2 separate regions of the Homo sapiens genome follow, and region 2 is linked to region 1. The links come from fine-mapping of genetic effects on gene expression. A gene starts in region 1. The other region holds a variant in brackets. All regions are shown on one strand. Distances are from middle to middle. Region 1 holds the start of PM20D1 (peptidase M20 domain containing 1). Region 2 overlaps PM20D1-AS1 (PM20D1 antisense RNA 1).

Region 1 (5,376 bases):
TTACTGCAGCCTTGAATTCCTGGAATCCAGCAACCCTCCCACCTCAGCCTCCTGTAACTAGGACTACAGGTGCTCGCCACCATGCATGGCTAATCCCAGAGCCATTTGTCCCAGGGTGTTAGAGAGGGGGCTGCTTGCTGCTCCTAGGCCACCTTCTCCCACCTCTGACAACTTTGGAGGGGTTGTTTTTAATTAGATTTAGGAAGGTAATCTCATCACTCTCCATGAGATTTTCATAAGGGGAGGGAGGAGTTCCAAGAATCCTTTTTTCCTCTGACCCATCCTTCCTCAGCTCTGTACTCAATGGGTGGTAGGGATGAGGGAAAAAGACTGATGTTATAGCTCAAAGTTGTTGACTGCCTAGAGGCCTAGAAATGTGTTAGTAATGAATCTGGGGTAGGCCTGAGTACGTGGAGTGTATATGTACCGGTGTGTTTGGGTGTGTAAGGAGGTAGGGGTGGGAGGAGCATGGAACATAGTTCTGGGCAGTTGCACAAGTAGAAGGAAATCCTAGTTCTACTTTTTGATGATTTAACATTTATTGAATGACACACATGTAGGGCAAAATTTGAGAGAGTTTGTACTCTAATGCAATGGCTGGATGAACTCTCAATCTTTGCCCTACATATGGTGGCTTAGTTTTTCCAAGAGCAAATCTACAGTCTCTACTCTGCCTATGGGAATTAGATTGTCCTCTGATCAGTCGCAAAATAAACTTCTTTATCACTTTGTAAAAGAACTGTGTCTCCATTGCTATTTCTACCACCCACCCCTTGCCCCTGATTTGCAGCTGACCTTTATGAATGTATTTTCCGAACTCAGCCAGGGCTGTAGTATTGGACTTCTCAGAGCTAAAAGTCACTGTTGGAATCTGGATGGCACCTGTCAGAGTCAAATAGAGATGAAAGATTGAAAATGAATTAGTCATTGTTTTTTTCTACAGTCCTCTGTGCACAAAAAGTTCTTTTGCCTTCATTATCATATTGCAGAGGGCAAAACACTAATGTGAGGTAGGCGCTATTGTTTCCTCTAATTCGAAGATGAGGGAAAATGCTTGGAGAGGTTAGGTGAGCTGTCTGAGCAACAGGCAGACTATAGATTTAAACCTATGTCTTCTGGGTTTGTTTAGGCTGATATGGTTCTTAAAGGCAAATACAGTCTAAGATTGGAGGGAAGTGGATTTTTGGATCCTGGTCTTGAAGGGAAGCTACTATAAATTGCTTCCTAAGGCCTCACTACCTCTGAAATCACCAATTGCTTTGATGAATCCAAGCTTCATCATTCTCAAGGCACCCACTGTCCTGGGTCCCTACATCAATGAGGCTTGTGTGTTTTTGTATGTAAAGGCTTATTCCTTATGCAGAGTCTCACTAGTCTGTCAACCAAGACCAGCTTTTTGGGCATATAATGCCTGGGAAGGGGTGGATTTAGAAGCCTCCAAACAAACTCCTCAGTCCTAAAATAATCTCACCCTCCTTACTCAGTTGTCTCAGTTCCTGAACCTTCACTGGGCTCATCCCTTTGAGTCTTTAAGACTTTACAGTTTTAAAGAGTTCCATGATCAAAGACAAAACCACTGGGAGGGAAAGCATGAATCATGAGAATATTGAATTAGACTGCTCTCCAAGAACACAGTGCAAACAAATTCACCTGAGGCAGGAAGGGTCTCTGAAAGACAAACTTCATCAGTTTTGCTAAGGATCAACCCTACAATAGCATAGCCCACCAGATAGATGGGGAAGCCGAGGTTCAGAAAGATTCAAGTGCCTACTCAAGGGCAGACCCAAGGATCTGATCTCAGGTGTTCTGTCCCCTGCTCAGAGTTCCAAGCTGTGTTGCTATGAGGTCCCTATTCTAGCTTATGTAGCTTTTGTTCTCTTCTGTGCAGACTGTGAGTGGCTGTCTAATGCCTTTTAGAGAATTATTTATGCTTTGGGAAAGCCCTGCTCTGCCTCCCAGGCTTGTCACTCTAGCATATGAACAATCTATATCCAACTATTGGGGTTAGCTTTTGGTCCCTGCATCTGCTTCTATATGTTTATGCAGGCAGTCTCTCTTAATCCATTACTTAATGAAAGGGAAAAGACTGGAGCTAAGCTGAATGGTAAAGAAGGATTTCATCCCATAGGATCTAGCACTCAACAGAAACTTTCCTGTTTCCTGGAAAATGCAGATTCAGAACAGGGATGAATTTTTGGTCTGGATTAGAGATCTAGAGGAGACATGTTCTTCAATTATGATTGAGAATTAGGAACATCCCACACCCCGGGAACACTCCACTCCCTTTCTTTAGAGCCATCTGATCCCAGCGAGTCCGACAGGCACTAGATGCTGTCACCCACTGCCCACTCTTTGCTGTGGGGCCCTGGGGAAGATCATTTAGCTGACCTAAGCCTCAATTTCTCTCCTTTGTAGATAAGACTAATATCATTTGTCTTATTTTACGACACCGCAGTAATTTATCAGGCATGCAAACTTTCAAAGGTTAAAATTGATGTACAAATGAAAGCTGGTGTAATACTCGAGGCAAGCAGGGGAAAGAATGGACGGTGGTCACGCCAAGAGGGGTGAAGTTGGAGCTTCCAGGTTAGGCAGGGCACACCAGAGTTCCAGGAGCCAGGTATGGGGGAAGTGTGGCGTCCCCAGACAGGGGCACGATGTGCTGGGAAGGGTGTTGGGGCCGGGCTGGGGTGCGTGTCGGGGCTCCAGCTGCAGTAGCAGATGCTTTGCGGCGGAAGCGGGGAGTCACGGGTTGACCTGGGGAGGGAGGGACCCACATATGAGCATAGGTGGGTGAAGGGGACCCGGGTTCACCTTTCAGCGCCTCTTTCATCGCGACGCGTTCCTCTTTGCTGAACTGAGAAGGGATTCGCGACGCCCTTTGATGCTCCCCGCTCCTCGGGCCCATCGATCTGGAGACGGTAGGGAAAACTAGGAGCAGCATAGCCACCAGGGCCAGCACGCAAACGCACCGCTGAGCCATGCTTCTCTCGAGCTCCTGCTGTCAGGCTACCGGGGTAGTTCTGACCTAAACGCCCAGACTAGCGTTTCTTGGCCCTAGCTCTGCTCTTATTCCGGCAAACAGCCTTAGCCACACCCCATATCCAGATCTGACCAATCATCGCTTCGCTAGGACAGCGGAACAACCAATTGACAGAATGACCCCGCCCAGGATCCTTAAGGCCTTTCGAGGGTTGTGGGTTTTCGTGCTGAGGCCAGCAGTTCCTGCAGAGCAGAGGTGAGGTCGGGCTCCAGGCTAGAGTCATGTCTGGTCCGCACTTGATCTCTCACCCATAAATCCTTTCCTGTATGACAACAAATCAAATAAAGGAGGAAAAGCAAAATAAAATGCACGAAGCTTATCAGACCATACTCTGCTGCTCGTTTTTTCCGAAGCTTAGAACCTGACTACAATTCCCTAGATCCTGGGGCGGGGGAGCTCTCTAGGTTCCCAGCTTGATTTCATCTGAAATTGGAACAAATTGCTCTGTTTATAGATACTGCTTTGAAATACCAGCTCAGAGGGTTGGCTCCTGTTTAGAAATTTCATTGAAAGTGCTTTTAATATTAATGTTAACACTACATTTTTGCAACTCTAGACAAGTACAGTAAGACTGAAGGATTTTTAGAAAGATTACTATAAAATATTTAAGAGAATTTTGATGTATAAATAATTTTGATGTATTCCACAAGTGAAATTTTATGGTTATTCAGAGTAGAGGATCATTCTGGAAAAAAGAAAACCTGTCTTATGTCACAGAAATATAAAATCAGATTTCCTGAAGCCAGAATAAATCGTTCCTTTCAGATTTCTTGATGCAATTTTATCTGGCATCACTCTCAAATTTTAGAATTCTCAAGAAAAATTCAGTAAGTGCTATACAACCAGTAAGGCCATATTGCTACCTGTGACCAAAGCTACAGGTTCACAGTCCTGGTGTTTGCATTTCATTTAAGATTTGCTTAAAAAAAAAAATTCAGCCATGTAGTTACTTTTCTTTTCTTTTCTTTTTTTTTCTCTCTCGGTGCCCAGGCTGGAGTGCAATGGGGCGATCTCGGCTCACCGCAACCTCCGCCTCCCAGTTTCAAGCAATTCTCTGGCCTCAGCCTCCCAAGTAGCTGGGATTACAGGCATGCACCACCATGCCTGGCTAATTTTGTATTTTTAGTAGAGATGGGGTTTCTCCATGTTGGTCAGGCTGGTCTCGAACTCCCGACCTCAGGTGATCTGCCCACCTCGACCTCCCAAAGTGCTGGGATTACAGGCGTGAGCCACCACACCCTGCCTAGTTACTTTTTAATAGCAACTTTAAAACAGTATCATGAAATACTTCACATATTATAAAGATATAAAAAATAACATAATGAACATTTCTGGATTCACCACCTAGTTTAAGATTTAGAATGTTAAAAATAGAGTTGAAATTTAAACATGAACATTGACATAATTTTTAGTAAAAAGTAGCTTAATCTCTACCTAACTTTAAAATTTTTTTAAAAGAGACTTTTTATTTTATATATTTATTATTTTTTAAAATTATTATTATTTTTGTAGAGATAGGGTTTCACTATTTTGTCCAGGCTGCTCTTGAACTCCTGGACTCAAGCAACCCTCCCATTTAAGCCTCCCAAAGTGCTAGTATTACAGGAATGAGCCACCACACCCAGCACAATTTTTATGATTGTAAAATTCATGTATATTTATGCCCTTGTGAAATATTTGGAACATTAAGTATAAAGAAAAAAATCACATGCTATCCCAATATCCAGAGACGTTCACTCATCATATTTTGATGTTATCCAATCTTTTTTCTCTGCACACAAATACCCACAAATGAAGGATGTCCCTGTTTTAAAATGAAACAGATGCATATACTGCATCCAAAGTTCTATGTTCTGCTTTTTTTCCTTTAACATTATGTCATAAACACTTCCTGGTCCTTAAATATTCTTTAAATTATCTTATCACATAATATTTGATAATTAAGAGTACGTACAACGTGTATGTAAAGTAAATAATAACATGAACACCCGTGATTTGGAGTTTAGACCTAACTGGTCAAACTGCATTTTTTCTCCTGTCACTGCTCCAATTCTTGCAATCTGTCTAATTCCCACACTGTTCCCAGATCTAGCCAATCATGGAAAATTATCAGTAGCATTGAAGGTGCATGTGTTCTATTGCCTTTATTTTCCAACTCCCTGCCCAAGGTAATTGTATGACCGTGTTGTGTGTTTTAAATAGTTCTACAACATATGTATGATATACATATATGTATAGTGTGTGTGTGTGTGTATATCTTATAAAAATGACATCATGTTGTGTGTAGTCTTCTGCAATTTGCTCTTTTTACCCAACACTGTTTGTGGGATTTA
Region 2 (5,376 bases), 39 kb after region 1:
CCGGTCTGTTATCGGACTGTATAGAGGTGGGAAGGCCAAACCGAGGAATTATGTCTGACAGAAGGGAAGAAATGACCATGGTGGCCTCCTCAGACCCTGTGGGAAAGGCCTCTACCCATCCAGTGAAAGTGTCTACCCAGACCAAGACGCATTTTAGTTTCCTGACTCAAGGCGTATGAGTAAAGTCAATTTGCCAGTCCTGGTTGGGGGCAAATCCCTGAGATTGATGTGTAGGGAAAGGAGGGGGCCTGAACAATCCCTGAGGAGTAGTAGAATAGCAGATGGAACACTGAGAAGTGATTTCCTTAAGGATAGATTTCCATGGTGGAAAGGAAATGAGAAGTTCTAAGAGTCAGGCTAGTGGCTTGTAACCTACATGGGAGAAGCTATGAAATGACGACAGAATAGAATGGGCCTGTGAGGCTGGAAGGAGATACTTTCCTTGGTCCAAGAACCATTTGCCTTGTGTGGGAAGAGATTGATAGGTGGAAGTTTCAGTGGGGGAGTAGGTGGGAGTGACCAGATAAGAAGGAGAAAAGCTGCTGTGAGGGATAGAAGTTGGAATGCTAGCTGCTTTTTTAGCTACCTTATCAGCATAAGCATTGCCCTGAATGATGGGATCTGATGCCTTTTGATGGTGCTTGCAGTGAATGACTCCAGCTTCCTTTGGAAGTAAAGTGGCCTTGAGAAGAGTTTTTATTAAAGAGGCGTTAATGATGGAGGACCCTTGCATAGTGAGGAAACCTCTTTCAGACCATATAACAGCATGGTGGTGCAGGATATGGAAGGCATATTCAGAGTCACTATAAATATTGACGCAAAATTCCTTTGCAAGAGTGAGGGCTCAAGTTAAGGCAATGAGTTCAGCTTGCTGAGAGGTAGTGGAGGGGTGCAGAGTGGTAGCCTCAATGATAGATGTGGAAGATACTCTAGCATAGCCTTCCTTTGCTGGTGAGTGGAGATTAGGCCTGGTGGAACTGCCATCAATAAACCAAGTGTGATCAGGGTGAGGAACACGAAAGAAGGAAATACGGGGAAATGGAGTGAATGTCAGGTGGATCAGAGAGATACAGTCATGGGGGACAGTTGTGGTATCAGGAATAATGTGGGAGGCCAGACTGAAGTCCAGGCCAGGAACAATGGTAACTGTCGGGGACTCAACAAAGAGTGAGTACAGCTGAAGGGGCCAGGGAGCAGAAAGTATATGTGTCAGGTATGAGGAAGAAAATAGATTTTGGAAGTTATGAGAACTGTAGAGGGTGAGTTGAGCATAGTTTGTGATTTTGAGGGTCTCTAAAAGTATTAGGGCACCAGCAGCTGCTGCATGGAGACATGATGGCCAGCCTAAAACAGTAAGGTCAGGTTGTTTGGACAAAAAGCCTACAGGGTGTGGTCCTGGCTCTTGTGTAAGAATTTTGACCGCACAGTCCTGTACTTTGGCTGTGTGTAACGAAAAGGGTTGGGATGAGTTAGAGAGAGCTAGTGTGGGGGCAGCTTCTAGGGCTGTTTTTAAGGAACGGAAAGGGAAGTGGCAAAAGGATTTAGGATCTATGGGGTCAGCTAGGTTTCCTTTTGTGAGTTTATATAATGGTTTAGTCAGGATGGTAAAACTAGGTATCCAAAGGTGGAAGTACCTAACCATGCCTAGGAAGGGAAGAAGTTGTTATTTTGTAGAAGGGGTTGGGGTTTGGGAGATTGGCTGGACATGATCAGCTGGGGGAGCACGTTGTTTTCATGAAGAATTATGCTGAGATAGGTAATGGATGAGGAAGAAATTTGGGCTTGACTGAAGTAATGGGGGCTGTCCATGAAGCCTTGTGGCAGTACAGCCCTGGTAAGTTGCTGAGGCTGATGGGTGTCAGGGTCAGTCCAAGTGAAAGTGAAGAGAGGCTGGAATGAAAGGTGCAAAGGAATAGTAAAGAAAGCATATTTGAGATCTAGAACAGAATAATGGGTTATGGAGGAGTTGTGGAGGGAGGCATTGAGGATAGGAGAGTATATGGTTTTGGCACCATGGAGTGGATAGGCAAGACAATTTGGTCGATAAGGCACAGATCCTGAACTAACCTGTAAGGCTTGTCTGGTTTTTGGACAGGTAAAATGAGGGAATTGTAAGGAGAGTTTATAGGCTTTAAAAGGCCATGCTGTAACAGGTGAGTGATAACAGGCTTTAATCCTTTAAGTGTGCTGTGGGATGGGATATTGGCATGATAAGGGTGATTATGTTTAATGGGATAGTAATGGGTGTGTGATCAGTTGCCAGTGAGGGAGTAGAGGTATCCCACACTTGTGGATTAAGGTGGGGAGATAACAAGGGAGGATGTGAAGGAGGTTTTGAACTGGGGAAAAGGGCAGCAATGAGGTGTGGCTGTAGCCTAGGAATAGTCAGGGAAGCAGACAATTTAGTTAAAATGTCTTGACCTAATAAGGGAGCTGGGCAGGTGGGGATAACTAAAAAGGAGT[A/G]CATTAAAGAATATTGTCCAAGTTGGCACCAGAGTTGGGGAGTTTTAAGATGTTTAGAAGCCTGGCCATCAATACGCACAACAGTTATGGAGGCAAGGGAACAGGCCCTTGAAAAGAAGGTAGTGTGGAGTTGGTAGCCTCTGTATTGATTAAGAAGGGGACAGACTTACCCTCCACTGTAAGTTACCCAAAACTCGGCATCCGTGACAGTTCAGGGGGCTTCTGAGGTGATTGGCAGTGTCAGTGTTCAGCCACTAAGCCAAGAAGACCTGGGAAGGAGACAGTCAGAGCCTTGGGCCAGTTGGACAGTCCAATTTCCAGTGGGGTCCCGCACAGATGGGACACAGCTTAGGAGGAATCCCAGGCTGCAGGCATTCCTTGGCCCAGTGGCCAGACTTCCAGCACTTAAAGCAAGATCCTGGGGGAGGAAGTCCTGAAGGGATGCCTGGCTGCTGTGGCTTAGGCATTTTGAAGTTTTTGTGTGCTGGAGATATGGCTGGGGTTTCTCTCACAGCAGAGGCAAGTAATTGCAACTCTTCTCTATTATCATACACCTTGAAGGTGCAGTTAATTAAGTCCTGTTGTGGGGTTTGAGGGCCAGAATCTAATTTTTGGAGCTTTTTCTAATGTCAGCAGCAGATTGGGTAATAAAATGCATAGAGAATAAGATAGCCTTCTGGCCCCTCTGGGTCTAGGGCAGTAAAGCGTCTAAGGGTTGTTGCCAAATGGGCCATGAACTGGGCTGAGTTTTTATATTTGATGTTAAAAACTGATTTGGGAGAGGTCGGATAAAGAAAAAAAGGAGCATTAACCTTGACTATGCCTTTAGCTCCAGCCACCTCTTTAACAGGAAATTGTTGGGCAGGTGGGGGAGGGCTAGTTGCAGAACGAAACTGTAAGCCAGATTGGGTGTGAGGAGGGGAAGTGATAGAAAGATTATAGGGTGGGGGAGCAGAGGCTGAGGAAGAATTGGGTCCTAGCTTGGCCTGGCGAGGAGCAGCCTGGGGAGAAGGGGAGAGGTCAGATCAGTCTGTAGAAAAGAAGGATTCAAAGGACTCAGAGTTTGGGGTGGAGACTGAAGGAACAGACAGGAGCTAAAGAAGAAAGATTTGGGATGAGTTGCATTGGGCACAGAGACTAGGGAGGGACCAATGTGTATTAGAAGGCCTGGATGTCAGGCACCTCAGACCATTTGCCCATTTTTCAACAAAAATTATCTAGGTCTCGGAGGATGGAGAAATCAAAAGTGCCATTTTCTGGCCATTTAGAACCATTGTCGAGTTTGTATTGGGGCCAAGCAGTGTTGCAGAAGAAAATAAGACATTTAGATTTTAGTTCAGGTGATAGTTGAAGAAATTTTAAGTTCTTGAGAACACAGGCTAAGGGAGAAGAAGGAGGAATGGAGGGTGGAAGTTTGCCCATAGTGAAGGAGGCAAGTTTAAAGAGAAAGGTAGAGACATGGAGAAAGGGTTGGGGAGCAGCCCTGGGCTGCAATGTGGGTGAGCAGCCAAAGCAGGCATCCCCGCAATTGACTTGCCACCAAGGGAATGTGGTTGAATGACCAAGGCAGGCATCCCTGAAGATATCAGACGCCAATGGAATGTGGGTGAATAATCAGGCAGGCATCCCCGGAATGATTAAACACTAAGGGAAGGCTGCCTTCCTGAGTACATGACCAGCACCAGAGTTTTGGGTCCATGGATAAAATGTGTCTCCTTTGTCTCTACTAGAAAATGAAAGGAATTGAAATTAAGAGAAGAGAGGGAGTGAAGGGTGGCACCAAGAATGAAAGGAGAAAGAGGTTGAGGGATAGTGAGAAAGGTTGGAGAAGAGAGTAAAAAGAGGCCACTTACCCGATTTAAAATTTGTGAGATGTTCCTTGGGCTGGTTGGTCTGAGGACCAAAGGTCGTAGGTGGATCTCTTCATGGAGTGAGGGTGAGGACAGGGGACAGTCTCCTGAAGGAGTCCTGCTGACCTGGGTCTTTGGCACCAAATGTGTCATGCATCCATGTGAAGAGACCACCAAACAAGCTTTGTGTGAGCAACAAGGCTGTTTATTTCACCTGGGTGCAGACGAGTTGAGTCCAAAAAGAGAGTCAGCCCAGTCTATATCTTTTAAATGGGAAAATTCAATCTATTTACATGCAACGTTATTCTTGATAGGTGAGTACTTACATCTAGCATTCTATTATTTTCTGCTTGTTTTGTATATCCTTTGTTCCTTCCTCTCTTACTGTTTACTTTTGTGGTTGGGCAGTTTTCTGTAGGGATAAGATTTGAGTCTTATCTCTTTCTCCCTATGTGTTAGCTTTACCAGTGAGTTTTTATAGTTTCACATATTTTTATGATGCTGGTTATCATCTTCTCTGTGGGGAACAGGCCCCCCAAAACCTGGCCATAAACTGGCCCCAAAACTGGCCATAAACAAAATCTCTGCAGCACTGTGACATGTACATGATGGTCTTAACGCCCACGCTGGAAGGTTGTGGGTTTACCAGAATGAGGGCAAGGAACACCTGGCCCACCCAGGGTGGAAAACCGCTTAAAGGCATTCTTAAACCACAAACAATAGCATGAGTGATCTGTGCCTTAAGGCCATGCTCCTGCTGCAGATAGCTAGTCCAACCCATCCCTTTATTTCAGCCCATCTCTTCATTTCCCATAAGGAATAATTTTAGTTAATCTAATATCTATAGAAAGAATGCTAATGACTAGCTTGCTGTTAATAAATACATGGGTAAACCTCTGTTGGAGGCTCTCAGCTCTGAAGGCTGTGAGACCCTTGATTTCCTACTTCACTCCTCTATATTTCTGTGTCTTTAATTCCTCTAGTGCCACTGGGTTAGAGTCTCCCCGACCAAGCTGGTCTCAGCAAGTGGTCTCCATCATGGGGGCTCGAATCCAGGTTGAAG

What was found. PIP is the estimated chance that this variant, and not a neighbour inherited with it, causes the effect.
Region 2: its variant is the best candidate, but not a certain one, in a credible set for the expression of PM20D1 in lung (TOPMed, PIP 0.51).

Annotation. Positions count from the first base shown.
Region 1 is chr1:205,847,090-205,852,465 of GRCh38, forward strand. PM20D1 (peptidase M20 domain containing 1) reads right to left here and starts at 3,043. Exons shown (of 13, transcript NM_152491.5): 1 at 2,815-3,043; 2 at 796-882. The coding sequence starts at 2,983. RefSeq lists an enhancer at 2,972-3,266.
Region 2 is chr1:205,885,860-205,891,235 of GRCh38, forward strand. PM20D1-AS1 (PM20D1 antisense RNA 1) reads left to right here. Exons shown (of 3, transcript NR_046097.1): 2 at 5,297-5,376. Among named protein-coding and RNA genes, the nearest start is that of PM20D1-AS1, 26 kb to the left of the region's middle. The variant A/G (reference allele first, on the strand shown) is at 2,464.